Regions from separate parts of the Homo sapiens genome. Here region 2 is linked to region 1. The links come from fine-mapping of genetic effects on plasma protein levels. A gene starts in region 1. The other region holds a variant in brackets. All regions are shown on one strand. Distances are from middle to middle.

Region 1 (8,524 bases):
ATATCCCAAACCACATGGTAAGTGTAGTACCCGGGTAGTTAGTTCTTCAATCCTTGCCTCTCTGCCTCACCCCTCTAAGTAGTTCCCTGTGTCTATTGTTGCCATCTTTATGCCCATTAGCACCCAATGTTTAGCTCCCACTTATAAGTGAAAATATACAGTATTTGGTTTTCTGTTCCTGCATTAATTTGCTTAGGATAATGGCTTCCAGCTGCATCTATGCTGCTGCAAAGGACATATTTCATTCTTTTTATGGCTGTGTAGTATTCCGTGGGTGTATATATACCGCATTTCCTTTATCCAGTCCACTGTTAACGGGCAACCAGGTTGATTCCATGTCTTTGCTATTGTGAATAGTGCCGCAATGAACATACGAGCACAGGTGTCTTTTTGGATATATACTCAGTAATGGGATTGCTGGGTCAAATGGTTGTTCTGCTTTAAGTTTTTTAAGAAATCTCCAAACTGCTTTCCACAATGGCTGAACTAATTTACATTCCTATCAATAGCATATAAGCATTTGCTTTTCTCTGCTGCCTCACCAGCGTCTATTGTTTTATGACTTTTTAATAATAGTCATTCCAACTGATGTGAGATAGCATCTCATTGTGGTTTTGATTTGCATCTCTCTGATGATTAGTGATATTGAGCATTTTTCATATCTGTTGGCTGCTTGTATGTCTTCTTTGGAGAAGTGTCTGTTCATTTCTTTTGCCCACTTTTTATTGGGGTTATTTTATTTTATTTTATTTTTTGCTTGCTGAATTGCCTAAGTTCTGTACAGATTCTGAATATTAGACCCTTGCTGCATGCAGTGTGCGAATATTTTCTCCCATTCTGTAGGTTGTCTGTTTACTCTGTTGATAGTGTCCTTTGCTGTGCAGAAGCTTTTTAGTTTACTTAGGACCCACTTGTCAATTTTTGTTTATATTGCAATTGCTTTTAAGAACTTAGTCATAAATTTTTCCCCAAGAATGATGTCTAGAGTGGTGCTTCCTAGGTTTTCTTCTAGGATTCTTATAATTTGAGGTCCTACATTTAAACTTTTAATCCATCTTGAGTTAATTTTTGTATATGGTGAAAGGTAAGGGTCCAGTTTCATTCTTTTGTGTATGGCTGGCCAGCTATCGTATCACCATTTATTGAATAGGGAGTGCTTCCCCCATTGCTTATTTCTGTCAGCTTTGTTGAAGATCAGATGGCTGCGGGTATTCAGCTTTATTTCTGTGTTCCATTGGTCTATGTGTCTGTTTTTATACCAGTGCTATGCTGCTTCGATTATTGTAGCCTTAGTATAGTTTTAATTTGTGTAATGTGATGCCTCAGGCTTTGTTCTTTTGGCTCAGGATTGTTTTGGCTATTCGAGCTTTTTTTTGGTTCCATATGAATTTTAGAATAGTTTTTTCTAATTCTGTGAAAAATGACAGTGGTAGTTTGACAGGAATAGCATTGAGTTTGTGGAATGCTTTGGGTGTATGGCCATTGTAATGATACTGATTCTTCCAATCCATGAGCATGGAATGTTTTTCCAATTGTTTGTGTCATCTATGATGTCTTTTACCAGTGCTTTGTGGTTCTCCTTGTAGAGATCTTTTATGACCTTGCTTAGCTGCATTCCTAAGTATTTTATTTGTGTGTGTGTGTGTGTGACTATTGCAAATGGGATTGCATTCTTGATTTGGCTCTCAGCTTGAACTTTATTGGTGCACAGAAATACTACTGATTTGTGCACATTGATTTTGTTTCCAACTTTATAGAAGTTGTTCATCAGTTCCCGGGGACTTTTGGTGGAGTCTTTAGGGTTTTCTAGGTATAAAATCATATCATCAAGGAAGAGAGAAAGTTTGACTTCTTCTTTTCCTATTTGGATGTCTTTTATTTCTTTCTCTTGTTAGATTGCTCTGGCTAGGACTTCTGAATGACAGAATTTTTAAAAGTCACCATTTGGCAATGATCATCATGATAATGTTTAATTAAATTAAGGAACATCATTGCATACTGAAATTATACAAGTGTGGGAGTGGGATGAGAAAGCTTAAAAGTATCTCCCTACCAAATGCTTATAAATTACGATGTGGAAGGGGAAGTAACTTTACAATAGAGAAACTTGATTGGTGTCAAGTTAATCAAATGATCAGAGCGAACGACATTAGTGATGGGACAGATTGACAATGAAAGCTAATAGGACTCACCAAGAATAATCCAGCATCACTTCTGTGCTATTTTGGCCAAAAAAGCATAACCCAGTTCTAATCATCAGACAGAGCCAAATCGAGGGACATTATTCAAAACAACCAACCTGCAGTCTTCGAGATGTCGAGGAAAAAACAAGGCATCTGTTTCAAACTGGAGGCCCGAAAGACATGGCAACTAAGAGCCATGCATTTAGAGAGAATGCAAAGTCCCGGATGGATTTTCTTGTTACAAAACCATTATTGAGAAGCTTAGCGAAACTCAAAGGGGGTTTCCACATGAAGGGTATGTGAGAGTTCTTTGTATCATTCCTTTAACGCTCTGTATTTTGAAATAGTTTCAGAATAAAAATGGAAATGGAAAAAAATGCAATGTTAACATATACGAGTTACTACTTTCAACAAGTTATCTTCCTTTTCATGCCTCAATTTCTTCATCTGTAAGGTGAAGACAGTAACAGCTACATAAAGGTTATTGGGAAGAGATGGAGAAGCCCCCAGCCGAAGGTCTGCTCACAGCGTAAATGCTCAAGCCCTGGTCATTATGAGTACTACGTTCTTGCCAACATTTTCTTGGGTTTCTTAGTCTCTAAAAGATCGTCAATTGCAAGACACGGTATTTTACATACCACTGAAGGAAAAAACAAACAAACAAACGAAAACATTCAATGAATTCCTGACGGTGTGATTCTTCTCGCTTAGAACTTTTAATACTTATTGAGAGAACTCTGTTAGACTCATTCAAATGTAGATTTTTATCCCCTGCTGCTCTATGATGACTTTTAAAAGGAAAGGGTCAGTCAAGTGAATTGGCTGAGGTGTTCCTAAAGCTCCTTCACATTTTGGGTCTGGTGTCCGGAGTGATTTTGACTCAGAGTCTCGGGTTCTTCGTTTCTCCACCAGACAGCATCCTCTGTGCTCCTGAGGGCATCCAGGCCCGCAGCCTCCCAGTCCCACAGAGGACCTCAGCAAAGACAGGCAGAGTGGGGACACCTGGGAGAAAAGAGAGCCCGGGACGTCACTTTAATTCCATCCTCTCCAGCCCTGGAGAAGCCCCTGCAGGGTTTTTCCATGCCAGGCAGGGACCTCACACTGACCGGAGTGCCTGAGAGAACCACACATGCCTTCCTCTACCCTGGGCTTTCTCTGCTAGGGTGAGGCCCTGCCAGCTCTTCCTGGCCAACCCTGCCCTTCCTGGTAGGAGGAAAGCAAAGAACAACAATCAGGCCAGAATTCCAGTGGCTTCGAGGCAGGTTCCTGCCCCTCCATTTCCTCCATTCCCCTCATTCTTGCCCTCCATTCCCCTCATTCCTGCCTGCTGCCCTTTCTCCTGGGAGGCAGCCCCATGTAGGAGAAATATGACTGCGTTTTGTTGTGTCTTGGCACTGTGATTCATCTTGTCTTTATTCAAACTTTTCATATTTGGTTCACCGTGAATAGTTTCTGCATCAGTTGGGATTTTTTTAAACCATATTGCATTAAAATATTACTTACAACAATTACTGAATTTTTAAATGCCTGTTTAAATTTTGAGCACGAGAGACTGCCTCACTCACCTGACCTTAATTCTGCTGGCCCTGCTGTGCTCAGGGAGCCACTCATTCATTCATTCATTCATTCATTCATTCATTCATTCATCTATTCATTTGCACACAGTCAAAGGTGCAATTTCTCCTCTGTACCAGGCCATGTGCTAGGTATTTGGGAGGGAAGTGCAAGCCGGACACAAGCCAGCACTGAAGATAGTGTCAGAAGAAAGACAGCCATGAACACACATGACCATATGACACATGGTGGGGTGGGGCGGCAGGGCAAAGAGGACATCGGGGAAATCAACATGCCACCAGCTACCACTTGTAGGGGGTTCTCCTGTGGCCAGCTCTGAGCTAAGGTCTTCCTGCACAGAATCTCACTGGATTCCCTCAACAGTCCTTCCAGGTTTGTAGATGCTTCTGCAAAAGTAACAGACAGATGGATGTCCCGAGGCTTGGGGAAGTAACACGCAGATGATTTGCACAAGGACACGCTTTAAGAAGCAGTGGACTTGGAAGTCCAACACAGATCTGTCTGGCTCTGGGCTCAAACCAGCTATGGTTATTGCAGCCACTTCCACCTGCATCCCCATCAAGCAGTCAGGGAAGGCTGCATGGAGGAGGCCCTGCGTCAGCTGAGGCTTGAAGGAGGCCTAGGAGTTTATAGGAAGGTAAATTGGAGTAGGAGGCTTTCTGGAAGTAAGAAAAGTCACGTGCACTATTAGCAAAGTAGGCCTGGGCCGGCACTGCTTCCTCTTTCTGCTTCTCTGTTTCCTGATGACATCAACATAAATAGGAAACGTGGGAGGCTCACTCTGCCTAGAGGCTCCAGAAGAAGACTGGTCTCTCCCACCACACAGAGGTATGGCCCGGCGTCCAGGAGCAGGGCTGAGGGGTGGGGTCAGAGCAGGGGGGAATGTGGGGAGTCCAGGATGAAAAAGGACAGGGGGAGCCTGGGGGGCGTCCTGTGGGTAGCTGTGCCCTGGGGACTTGGAGGAGTTAGGGCTTGGCCTCTTAGGATGACCTGAGCCCAGACTCCTAGGGCGGCCAGTGGATGGGGAGGCAGCCAGGGGTGCCAAGCTGCTTGGGTGTTGTAGGAGAGCTCTGGGGAGGACTCAGCCTCGCTAGCGGGATCTGGTTGGTCCTGGTGGGAAGGACGCCTAGTGGGGTGAAGAGAGCTCAGGCCTGGGAGTCAGGCACCTATAGTCTGTCTTCGCTTTGTCACTAAGATGCTGGTGGTAGTGAGAGCACCCCCTGTCCACCCTGGGCTTCTGTCTCCTCATCTGTGGAATGGGGAGCATGGATAGTCCCTGACATCTTGGTTTAGAAAGAGAGAGAACGCATGCTCGTGTGTTTGCCCGTGTGTGCATTTGTGTGTGTGCCTGTGTGTGTATGTGCATGTGCGGATGTCTGGGGATGCAGGAGTGCAGAGAGACTAAGAGGCAGAGGGTGAAACCTGGAAGCTTGCTGCGCTGAGGCCCAGAGCTGGGTGCGGTGTGGCTTGAGAAGCTCACTTTGAACTTGAGAAAGAGCCCAGCACTTTGCCCAGAGACATACCAGGCACTATCCAGCAATCTCTCTCTCTCTCTCTCTCTCTCTCAGTCTCTCTCTCTGTCTGTCTGTCTTTTTAGTTATGACACTCTGCCCTGCTGATTTGGGTTGCTGATTTGGGTTGGGGCCCAGGTGTGTGTGTTCTGTACCCAAGTATGCTGGCTGGGTGGGTGGGTATCTGGGGTGCCTGCTTCAGGGTGTGTGCAGGTGTGTGTACTGGCCCTGAGAATGAAAGGGCAGGTGTTTCACTGGGACCTTGTCAGACAGGTGCTAGCGACAAGCTGCATATGTGCAATTTTTAGTCTTCAAAAACCCTGCTGTTATATTTTTGTACAGCCCAATTCTAATTTTTTTCTATCATCTTTCCTGCTTTGTAATCATTTTATAATGAGTAAACATTTCCTATTAGCTTTTGGTCACTCTTTTTTTCATCCAGCAGTTTTATTTATATTGTTCCAGTATACAGATATACCAACACCACAGGATAATTCATGAGTTGTATAAGGAATGTATTTAATGCTAAACAAGCAACTACACAGAAACCTACCTTCATGAAAATTAGAATAATCTAGAATTATGTAGCACAAGAGACAAAGTCCCCAGCAATTTCTTTTCCCTAGTTCCATAGCTTATTCTTTTCACCACATGTATTCTTCCAGAACATTTTCTAAGCATGATACAAGCATATAGTTTTTCTTTTCCTGTTTGTTTTTTGTTTTGTTTTGTTTTGTTTTTGTGACAGAGTTTTACTCTTGTCGCCCAGGCTGGAATGCAGTGGTGCAATCTTGGCTCACTGCAACCTCTGCCTCCCGGGTTCAGGTGATTCTCCTGCCTCAGCCTCCTGAGTAGCCGGGATTACAGGCATGAGCCACCACACGTGGCTAATTTTTGTATTTTTAGTAGAGACAGGGTTTCACCATATTGGCCAGGCTGGTCTCGAACTCCTGACCTCAGATGATCCGCCTGTCTCAGCCTCCCAAAATGCTGGGATTACAGGCTTGAGCCACTGTGCCAGGATGGTAGTTTTTCTTTTTACAGAAATGGGATTATTTTATTTATATATATATATATATATTCCTAATTTTTTCACTTAATATTGTATTTTGGAATATTTCCAAATTTCTACAATAATACATACAGATTTAACTCGTTAAGTAACCCTAAGAAATATGTGGCATTTATTAGGATGGGTACACCACAATTCATCTAATCTCACGTTGATCGACACCTAGATTGTTTCTAATTTTTCCACATCTGTGAAAGTGTTTCTGTAGCCTAAATTACTAAATGCAGAATTGCTGTGCAGAGGTTGTGCGTTAGAAATTATAATAGGTATTGTCAAATCAGCCTCAAAGTAGCTGAGCTAAGCTGACGTCCCCAAGGTAGTGCATAAAGGGTCCAATTTACCTTTAGAGAAATTATCAATCTTCTAATTTTGTCCAATATTATGTATGGAAATTCTCAATGTCGCGTGATTTTTTTCTTTCCCTGATTATGGGTGAAGTTGTACATTTTCTATATGTGGATTGGCCTTTTGGATTTCATTTATGATGAATGTGGAGAAATTTTTGTTCATCTCCTGTTGAATTCTCTTTTACATCTTAACTTTTGGAGTGACTCATTTATTACGTGTATTAATAATCCATTTATATATGTTGAAAATATATTCTCCCAGGTTATGACTTATCTTTTTCTTTACCATGTTTAAGATGTCTTATGTCATATAAAAATGTTTTCATTGTTAAGTCAAACCTGTCATTACTTTTTACTTTATGGTTTCTGATTTTGGTGTCTTGTAAACCTCTAAGATCACAGGTGTCTTGTAAACCTCTTTTTACTTTATGGTTTCTGGTTTGGTGTCTTGAAACCTCTAAGATTACAGAAAGAGTTTTAATAATTTTACTATTTTGGTTTTGACTTTGAGATTTTTAGCCCACCTAGAATTTAGAGAAGTGAGTAATGTGTAAAGTAACTTTTAAAAATAATTACCATCTAATTGTCTTAACATTGCTAATTATGAGTGTGTGATTTCTCCTCTCTTCAATGATTTGAAGTGCCCCTATTACATCCTAGGCTTCTATACATACTTCGTTATTTTCTTTATTGTTTTCTCTTCCATTTGGCTGTCACTACATTCCTTATTATTTTTCTAACGAATGGAGCAAGTCTCTCATCTCTGGTTTGTTATAATTTAGAATCAGTTTGCCAAGGCCAGGCACAGTGGCTCATGCCTATAATCCCAGCACTTTGGGAGGCTGAGGCAGGCAGATCCCTTGAAGTTGGACGTTCAAGACCAGCCTGGCCAACACGGTGAAACCCCATGTCTACTAAAAATACGAAAAATTAGCCGGGTTTGGTGGTGTGCACCTGTAATCCCAGCTACTTGGGATGCTGAAGTGGGAGAACTGCTTGAACCCAGGAGGCAAAGTTTGCAGTGAGCCGAGATCACGCCACTGCACTCCAGCCTGGGCAACAGAGTGAGACTCCAACTCAAAAATAAAAATAAAAATCAGTTTGCCAAGCCCATTAAATTCCTTTTTGGAATTTTCATGTTGATTGCATTGAATTTAGAGATGATCTGAGGGACATTGACCACTGGAAGTAAAGACAATAGTGAGAGCCTCCTGTGTGAGGCTTTGACAGGAGGACACTAACGTGCCCCCTTGACTCTGTCATCGCCTTTGGTTTCTGGCAGACTTTCAGTGATGCCAACGTTTCCGCCACTGCTTCATTTGCCAGGGTTTGTTTGTTCATTTAACCAGAAATGTCTTGTTTATTATTAAATATTTAGGAGTGTCTGTCAAGATCAGCTTATCCTTTTTTCCCTTTTAATCCGTTCATCTGTTTGTTTGAATCATAAATAGGTTTCTTAAGGGTTCTCCTTCCATGTATGGAGTACCCTCTACTTGGCCATGATGTCTTCTTCTTTTAAAAGTCTTTGTCAGGTTGACCTATGAAATTGTTTTTGTCTGGAGTGAATTTGTATTTTGCTTTTCCCCCCTAGTTTTTATCCCTGCCATTCAATTTCTTCATAAGCTTGGGAATGTTTATCCCTGCCATTCAATTTCTTCATGAGCTTGGGAATGTAATATGTGCATGTTTATTTTGAGTAAGAAGGTGTTTGGTTTTTCTCTTCTCTTTTCTCTCTCTTCCTTTCTCTGTCCCTCCCATCCCTTCTCTGTCATCCTCCTGTCCCCATGCTTACTCTTCATTCTTAGTGATTTTTAATCTTTATGTTTTTAGGGATTT
Region 2 (8,000 bases), 13 kb after region 1:
GAAAGTCCAGCTGAGCGTGTCTGGCTTCCTTGCCCACATTTCTCAGGGCGGCACTCCCGGCCCCTAGGCTCCAGGATGGCTGCTCTGGCCGTTTCCCTGCCCCTCCTTCCCCAGCAGACACTCTCTGTGCCTCAGTGGTTCCCACCTCCGGGACTTTGCTCCTGCAGGGCCTTGGCTGGGGTTCTCTCCCTGCTTCAGCCGCTAGCACCCTCCTTGTGCCTGAAGCCCGCACTGGGATGCTCCTGGGCTCTTGAGGTGAAATGGCCCCTCCCAAGGGCTCCCAGAGACCTGGCTTCTGTGATAATGCTGGGACCACAGTCCCCTTAACAAATACCAGGCTCCTGAGGACGGGGACTAGAGAGGAGGTGGGAGGTTGCAGGGTAGAACTCTGCCACGCTGCATCCCAGGGCTGAGTGTGTGCCCCCTCCCAGGCTGCACAGTCGGTCCAGGGGCCAGGCCTGTGCTTGATGCATGTCCCTGTCCTGGGGTGGGGGGAGGGGACCGTGCCCAGGAACAGCACACTGCGGAGGCCCAGAAACCATGCTGAGAACCAACAGAATGTCTTGCTTCTGCCAGGAGAGGAGGGTCCGCAACCAGGAGCCCACCCCGGCAGACATGAACACATGTACATGTGCCTGGCCACCTGGTGCCTCTGCAGGGACCTGGGAGACCCCTCCCCAGAGCGGGACATCCCAAAGCAGCTGGGGGTGATGGTGACAAGGGTCCCTGCAGGAAAGAGAGGTGACCCCCTTCTACCCCTCTTGTCAGAAACCATCCCGCTGCAGACCCTGCGCTGCTACAACGACTACACCAGCCACATCACCTGCAGGTGGGCAGACACCCAGGATGCCCAGCGGCTCGTCAACGTGACCCTCATTCGCCGGGTGAATGAGTGAGTGATGCTGGGGGCAGGGGCCACGGGCAGGGGCTACGACGTCCCCTGTGCCTGGCATGGGGCGACAGTGTAGAGAGGGACCTGTCAGGTCAGCCTCGGGGTGGGAGTGGACAGAGGACAGAGGAGGAGGGAGGCCCTGCAAGAGCTCCTGCTCCGCCAGGCACCTGCGAGGCCGGGTGCTGCCGTCTGACCTGGGGTTTCTGCGGAGTGCCTCCTACACTGATGTTGGTGACAATGGTGGTGGTGGCAATGGTGAAAATCTTCTCTTGTTTCATCACAATTTAACACAATTGCCCCACATGACCTATCTTAGTTCCTCCTCACTGTGAGGTGGGCAGGGCCAGGCCACGAAGCCCCAGCTGTGCCACTGCCTGCCTGTCCAGAGTAGACCAAGGAGAGATGGCGCTAGCCTGGGAGTTCACAGATGGGAAAACTGAGGCCCTGGAGGTGAGGTGCCAGCCCTGGCCACGGGGTAGACAGTGGCAGAGCAAGCTGTGTGGACGTGTCTGGGAGGGGGCTCCGCGCTCTCCCAGGCCCCCCCTCCGTATGTGGGCTGCCACCTCTCCCACCCAAGCTCTCCTGGGCACGTGCCACAAGGGAAGGGGACCAGAATCGCTCTGGGGTGTTGGCCAGGGTCTAAATCAGCCATAAATTAAGTAATTAAATAGCTGGAACCAGAGAGGCAGATGACAACCCATTGGAGGTCACCCCAGCGTTGGGGGGCGGGGCCGGCTCTGCCACCCCCACCCCTCCACCGCCTTCAGTTCTCCAGGGCGTCTCTGTCGGACCTTCTCCATTCTCCTCAAAGACCATCCTGCCCCTCCCTGTGACCTGCTTCCTGCTGCTCTGACACAACAGGGGACCAGGGAGAAGCTCCCCACCCACCCCACACTCACACTCCCCACCCCCTTTGCCCACCGCCGGGGCCTGGGCCTGGACCAGGGCTCCTGTCTGAGGCCTGAGACACGATGCTGTCTGGTCCTGTTGCTCAGGAACATCACGGCCCCCAAGTCCCCACTCTGCCCTGTGCCACCCACCATGCCCTCTCCCAGGATCTTTCCCAATTGCCTTGCAAACCTGCCCCAACCCCCTCTCAGATGCCCACAGGAGTGCAGCGCCTGGGCATCTCCTGACCTGGCAACCCTGCGGCCCCTCTTTCTCTGCTTCCTTTGACAGCAGCATTCCCTAAAGAGTTGTCCACATTCACCACGTCCAGTGTCTTTCCAGCCATTTCCTCCTGGGCCCACTCCCCTAGGATGCTGCCCCCACCAGGCCACCCAAACTGCTCTGGTCCAAGTCAGCAAATGTCCCAGGGAGCAGGATCTCATGGTTGGGCCTCCGCCTTCTTCCTACTTGACCAGGGGCAGCCCCTGACAAGGAGGACCACCGCGGCCTCCCTGCAGTTTCTCTTGCACCTGACTCTGCCCACAGCTCACCCAGTGCCCCCGGGGCCCTGCCCATCCTCCTCTTTCTCCTTGTCTGCTGCCTCCTGATGGCAAGACACCCAGGCCCAGTCCATGGACCTCCTCTCTGCTGTATCCACTCTGCAGAGACCCCCTCAGGCCCCTGGGGCATCTCCCAAAGGTGACCTCAAGCCCACAATTCCCCTAAGCTCCAGCCCTCCAGGCGTACTGGCCTCTCCACCTGTCACTTAGACAACAGGTGTCTCCGACTCCAAACGTCCTCAACCAAAGTCCCGCTCTCACCCGAGCTGCGCTGCTGCCTCTGTCTTCCCCATCTCCCTTTCTAAATGGGAGCTCCTAGTGGCTCAAACTAAACAACAGGGAGGATTTTGTTTTGTTTTTAAGTCTCTTTTGTCACCATTCCTTCCTGACTGCTACATCCCTCCACCAGCAAATGCTGCCAACCTTATCTCAAGCAGAACATGAATCTCACCCACGCCAGCCTGACCACCCTGTTGCACGCCACTTCCTGTCACCTGAATATTCCAGAAGCCTCGTAACTGGGCTCCCTGCTTCCAACATTGCCACATTCCCACCTCAGTCTATTCGCAACCGAGGACCCTCAGGAATCCTTTCAAAGCATTTATCAAAATCTACAACACCTCTGCTCATGACTGTTTCCCACTCACTCGCAGTGAGATCCAATCCCATCATGTAGATGGATGGGTCTCCTAGACCTCCCTATCACACGCTCTACTCCCTGCGCACTGGTTTTAGGCCAAGCCACGCAGCACACCAAACTCTGCCTGTCCCAGGGCCTTTGCACGTGCTGTTCCCATTTCCTGAAATCCTCACAATTTGCACAGTCCCTCCCTCAATGCCTTTAACATTCTGCCCCCAGGTCACCTCCTTAGAGAAGCCTGCTTGTCCCATATTTCAAATTGCCTCCCTGGCCCAGCCCTTCCTCCCTCCTCACCTGCTTCTTGCTTTATTTTTCCACATGAAGTTCTCTCCACTGCACACGCTACACACTTTGTTCCATGCGGGTCCCCTTCTCCCAGGATGGCAGCTCCGTGGGCAGGATTTTTGTGTGTTTTATCACTGCTGGCCCCTGATTCTGAACAGAGCCAGGCATGTGGTGAGCACTCGAGGAACCTTTCGTGAGTCAGTGATACCCATACACCCTGGGCTAAGCCGTGTCCTCTCCCAACAGGGACCTCCTGGAGCCAGTGTCCTGTGACCTCAGTGATGACATGCCCTGGTCAGCCTGCCCCCATCCCCGCTGCGTGCCCAGGAGATGTGTCATTCCCTGCCAGAGTTTTGTCGTCACTGACGTTGACTACTTCTCATTCCAACCAGACAGGCCTCTGGGCACCCGGCTCACCGTCACTCTGACCCAGCATGGTGAGGGGCTGGGGGCCCTGCCCGGGGCTTGGTTTCCTGTGTGGACAGCGGGGGCACCAGGGGTGGTCCAGGGAGTCTTCAAGGCAGAAGGCTGTGGCTTGGGGTTGGGTGAGGGTTTCTTGAGGGATGAGGGTATGGTCTGGTTACATGGAGACTTCAGAGCAGAGGGGCCCCTGACAAAGGCTTCTCCTGTGCCCCTGGCTGCTACCACCTCCCACTAAGCCATGGGCTTCCAGCACTGCAGGCTTGTCTTGAAGAAAACCGTTCTCACCACTCACTTAGAAACCTACCAAGTTAGAAAACTCTGTCCGCTTAGTTGTTTCATCTCATCTCTGAAGCAACCCATTTCCTGGATGTGGCCCTTGAGGCCCAGGAGGTCAGATGCCTCCTCTGAAGTCCCACAGCTGAGCAGTAATGACAGAGATGGGGTCAGCCTTCCCGGGGGCTTCCTGCATGGTAGACAGGGAGCTTGTCTCCTCGCTGCCCTGGAGGAGGGGCCCCGGTGTGGGCCGAAATCCCACAGTGGTCCATGAAGCCATCTGTGGTCTAGGGTGGGGTAGATGATTATTTTATGTAGTTAGGTTTTATTTGCCTCTATATTAGAAAGAAATATAACCTGCACTTCGAAGTCCTGGATTCAAGGAAATGGTTGCTTAGAATGAAGCTAAACCTGAAAAGGGACACGTTTTATGAAAGTTTTCGTTGACGTGGCAAAAACCCATGCTGGTGGCAGGCTGGTAGGAGGTACTGCAGGCTGTCATTGGGAGTCTCAGAACCACGGCAGGCTTGGTGCTGTTATTGGTGCCTTTGGCTGCTGCTGAAACGGAGACAGAGGGAGGTGACTAGTCCAAGGCCTCTCTACTGCTGCTGGCAGAGCTGAGATCCAGTGCAGGATGGTCTGAGTCCCCGGTCCTAACCACCGAACCACCTGGTGCTCTTTGCAAGGGTCACACGGAAGGGGCTCTGACCATGGCTTCCTGCCCTTTTTTGCCACAACATCATAAAGCCACTGCCAGAGGAGGGGATCAGTTAGGCCACCAGGAGTCCATCAGAAGCAACATTTCCACACATGGGTTTGATGGACACGAGAGTCCCTTCCTTCCCGAAT[G/A]GAGCTCAGGGGGCCCAGGCTGGAGGGAGGGGAAACACTGTATGCCGTCCACCGTGAGAACTTACTGACAGTGGCGGGTGGGTGCCTCATGCAGGGGGTAAAGGGCAGGGCCCCTGGGAGATCAGAACAGGCTTCCCAGAGGGAAGAGCTTTGCAACTCAGATCTGAAGGGTAGACAGGAGGGGAGGGCAGTAAGAGCCTCTCTGGCAGGGTAACAGCTGTGCAGAGGCTGGGGGATCAGAAGGGCATGGGCAGCTGGGGAACCTGCTCACCATTGTGTCCAGGGAGCATCAGCTTCAAGGGCTGGACAGCGGTGGGAAGAAGCAGGAGACACAGGTAAGGACCTGTCCCTGGAGAGGCTTCTGTCTCCTGCAGTCTCAGGTAGAGGGGACCCTCTAGGCATGGAGAGCACTGAGGGGAAATGACATGATCAGATGTGGATGTGAGAATGCTGGGGACAGGGGACTTACAGGGTAGATTGGAGGAGCATTAGTTGGGAAAGAAGTTGAAATTCAGGCTGTGGCCTAAAGCACTCATTCCTAGAAATGATGAGGACACAACTGGCTAGGAGATGGGGACATGAGGGCATGCAAATCATAGTTCAGATATACACACAATTCATTCATTCAACCTTCTTTCCTTGAGCGCCTACATAAGCCAACGAAGCAGTCAACAAACCAGCCAGCAACCCTGCCCTTGGAGCTTACAGCCTGGAAACAAGGAAGGTTTCTAAGGCGATGGAGACAACTTAGATATAGGGAGAGAAGTGTGGCCCTTGGCCTCCTGGAGCCTGTGTTGAGTAGCGAGGTAGGGTCCAGCCTAATGCAGATTAGCAATGAATCAAGGATGCTGGGAGGTACTGGGCAGGCGACAGGCATGCATCTGATCTGCTCTGAGTCTCCATGTTTGGAGACCTTGGACATTTTACTTCCTCTATGAGTTTCTCCGTCTGTGAAATGAGCTGGTGGACTCAAGAGGTTTCTCTTGAGTTGGCTGAGCAGGTTTCTGATGGGGCTCCCAGTCTGCGCAGTTTGTGGCAGCTTCCGAGAGGGCTCTGCCGGGAAGAGCTCCCCCTCCATGACAGCCTCGGGGGCTGGGAGTGCAGTGACCCATGAGGGACGCCTGTCCTGGCTGTGGGTGAGGAGGGGCGGTTCCCCTGCTGTGTGTCTGCCGTTCTGGGTTGATGGTTCCTGACATGCTCTAGCATGCCATAACCCATGTCCAGCAGAGAGCACTTACATCCTATGTGTGAGGATGTTTTCGTTTGAAAGCCATCCCTCAGCAAGCAGACACCAGAAACCAGAAATCAGGTGCCGTGTCTTCATTCTGCATTTTCTTGAACAACCCAGAGTTCCCAGGAGATAGATGCTTGCCTTGTGGCTGCAAGGATTTCATGAGAAGCCCCAAAGTTGCTTACGCGTATTTGTTCATTCATTCACTCATTCACCTTGCCCCATAATTCACTGAGAAGCCGCATCTCAGCCTGGAGGTAGGGAAGGGGGTCAGGACCAATCCCACCCACCCCCATCTCCTCACACCTTAGGGGAGGCAGACACAGAAGCATAGGAATCCCTCAGCTGTGGTAAGGCCCTGGTGGAGGGAATTCCACTGAGCTATGGTGAAATGAGAGAAGGAATGAGGGATTCCGCCTGGAGATGCAGATCCGAGGATGTTCCTAGAGCCGGAGGCATTTGCCCGGGGCACTGACAACAGGAAGGACCCTGGGCAGGAGGAAGGGAGCTTGGACAGCAGGAGGGGGGAGGCCGCTGAACCGCAGGCCCCTCTGCTAGCAGGAGCCACCCAGGCCGCAGCGTGGGCAGTGGGGAGCCTCAGGACAGAGGAGGCTCCAATGAGTTTCCTCGCCAGCGCTTTTTATGGAGTTCGGGTCACGTGCGCATTGCAATCTGCACGGCTTTCCATTGCTTTCATGTTGAAACCCTACAGTTTTGCAGATGAAGGGCTGAGGCTCACAGAGGAGACGGGTCTTGCTCAAGGTCCCTCAGCTGCTGGGGGCAGGGGTGGCCTGGAACCCCCTGTGTCCACACAAAAGGCCATGCAGGCCCTGACTGCCCCCCAGCGGTCCAGCCCTTAGGTGCCCTTCACTTCCTCCCCTCCAGTCCAGCCTCCTGAGCCCAGGGACCTGCAGATCAGCACCGACCAGGACCACTTCCTGCTGACCTGGAGTGTGGCCCTTGGGAGTCCCCAGAGCCACTGGTTGTCCCCAGGGGATCTGGAGTTTGAGGTGGTCTACAAGCGGCTTCAGGACTCTTGGGAGGTAGGAACCACGGCCAGCTCTGCCCCAGCCCGAAGGGATGGGCAGCACCCCTCCTCCAGCACCCACTGTCTCCTGACAGGACGCAGCCATCCTCCTCTCCAACACCTCCCAGGCCACCCTGGGGCCAGAGCACCTCATGCCCAGCAGCACCTACGTGGCCCGAGTACGGACCCGCCTGGCCCCAGGTTCTCGGCTCTCAGGACGTCCCAGCAAGTGGAGCCCAGAGGTTTGCTGGGACTCCCAGCCAGGTAATGTTGCCAGAGCCCAGGAAATGCCCCGTGGTGGGAGGGCAGGCTCATCAGGAGCTCCTGGCACAGCAGGGTTCCTGGGCTCCACCTGGGGGCTTCCCAGATCTCCTGCTGCCATCTTTCCAGTAGCGTCCCTGGGCCGTCCCACCTCTACTGTGACCACTGACCAGTAGGACTCTGCATCTGTTCACTTTGGGTTTCCAGTTTTCTGCACGTTCTCTGCCAATGGCAATTACAATAATAACAACAACAGTGCTATTAGCAGCTGTGTGTTAATGGAGGCTACAGGATGCTCAGGGCTTACCCACATTTTTCAGTTCAATCCCCAAACACTGAAACTTAGATACTATTTCCATTCTCCCGGGAGGGCGTGCAGGTGCACAGAACTCTCTCTCTCTCTCTCGGAGCTGTTGGACACACAGCTGGCAGGTTCAGGCTGAAGTTTCAGCCCTGGTCTTTTGGCCCCAGAGCTCATGACCTCTGTGTGATGAATCACACGGTGGGCACCCACTGAGAGCTATGGGAGGGATGAATGACGGAGTACATGAGGACCTGTCTCCAACCCAGGGGATGAGGCCCAGCCCCAGAACCTGGAGTGCTTCTTTGACGGGGCCGCCGTGCTCAGCTGCTCCTGGGAGGTGAGGAAGGAGGTGGCCAGCTCGGTCTCC

Direction of the effects. Positions count from the first base shown, and alleles are read on the strand shown. Strength reflects both the effect of a copy and how common the allele is.
As copies of G replace A in region 2, the plasma level of the protein whose gene starts at base 4,537 in region 1 goes down (moderate association).

What was found. A credible set is the group of variants that fine-mapping cannot tell apart. PIP is the posterior inclusion probability: the model's chance that the variant is causal. Protein levels are from antibody-based Olink assays in UK Biobank. Linkage for the fine-mapping came from a reference panel and not from the study's own genotypes, which makes the PIPs less certain.
Region 2: its variant is the best candidate, but not a certain one, in a credible set for the plasma level of the CSF2RB protein (UK Biobank, PIP 0.56).

What each region holds. Positions count from the first base shown.
Region 1 is chr22:36,909,092-36,917,615 of GRCh38, forward strand. It overlaps CSF2RB (colony stimulating factor 2 receptor subunit beta), which reads left to right and starts at 4,537. Exons shown (of 14, transcript NM_000395.3): 1 at 4,537-4,586. RefSeq lists an enhancer at 2,370-3,071.
Region 2 is chr22:36,922,476-36,930,475 of GRCh38, forward strand. CSF2RB (colony stimulating factor 2 receptor subunit beta) reads left to right here. Exons shown (of 14, transcript NM_000395.3): 3 at 769-892; 4 at 3,512-3,702; 5 at 6,927-7,084; 6 at 7,164-7,332; 7 at 7,900-8,000. It overlaps LOC105373023 (a long non-coding RNA gene), which reads right to left and starts at 3,468. Exons shown (of 2, transcript XR_938230.2): 1 at 3,275-3,468. RefSeq lists enhancers at 1-383, 3,029-4,228. The variant G/A (reference allele first, on the strand shown) is at 4,811.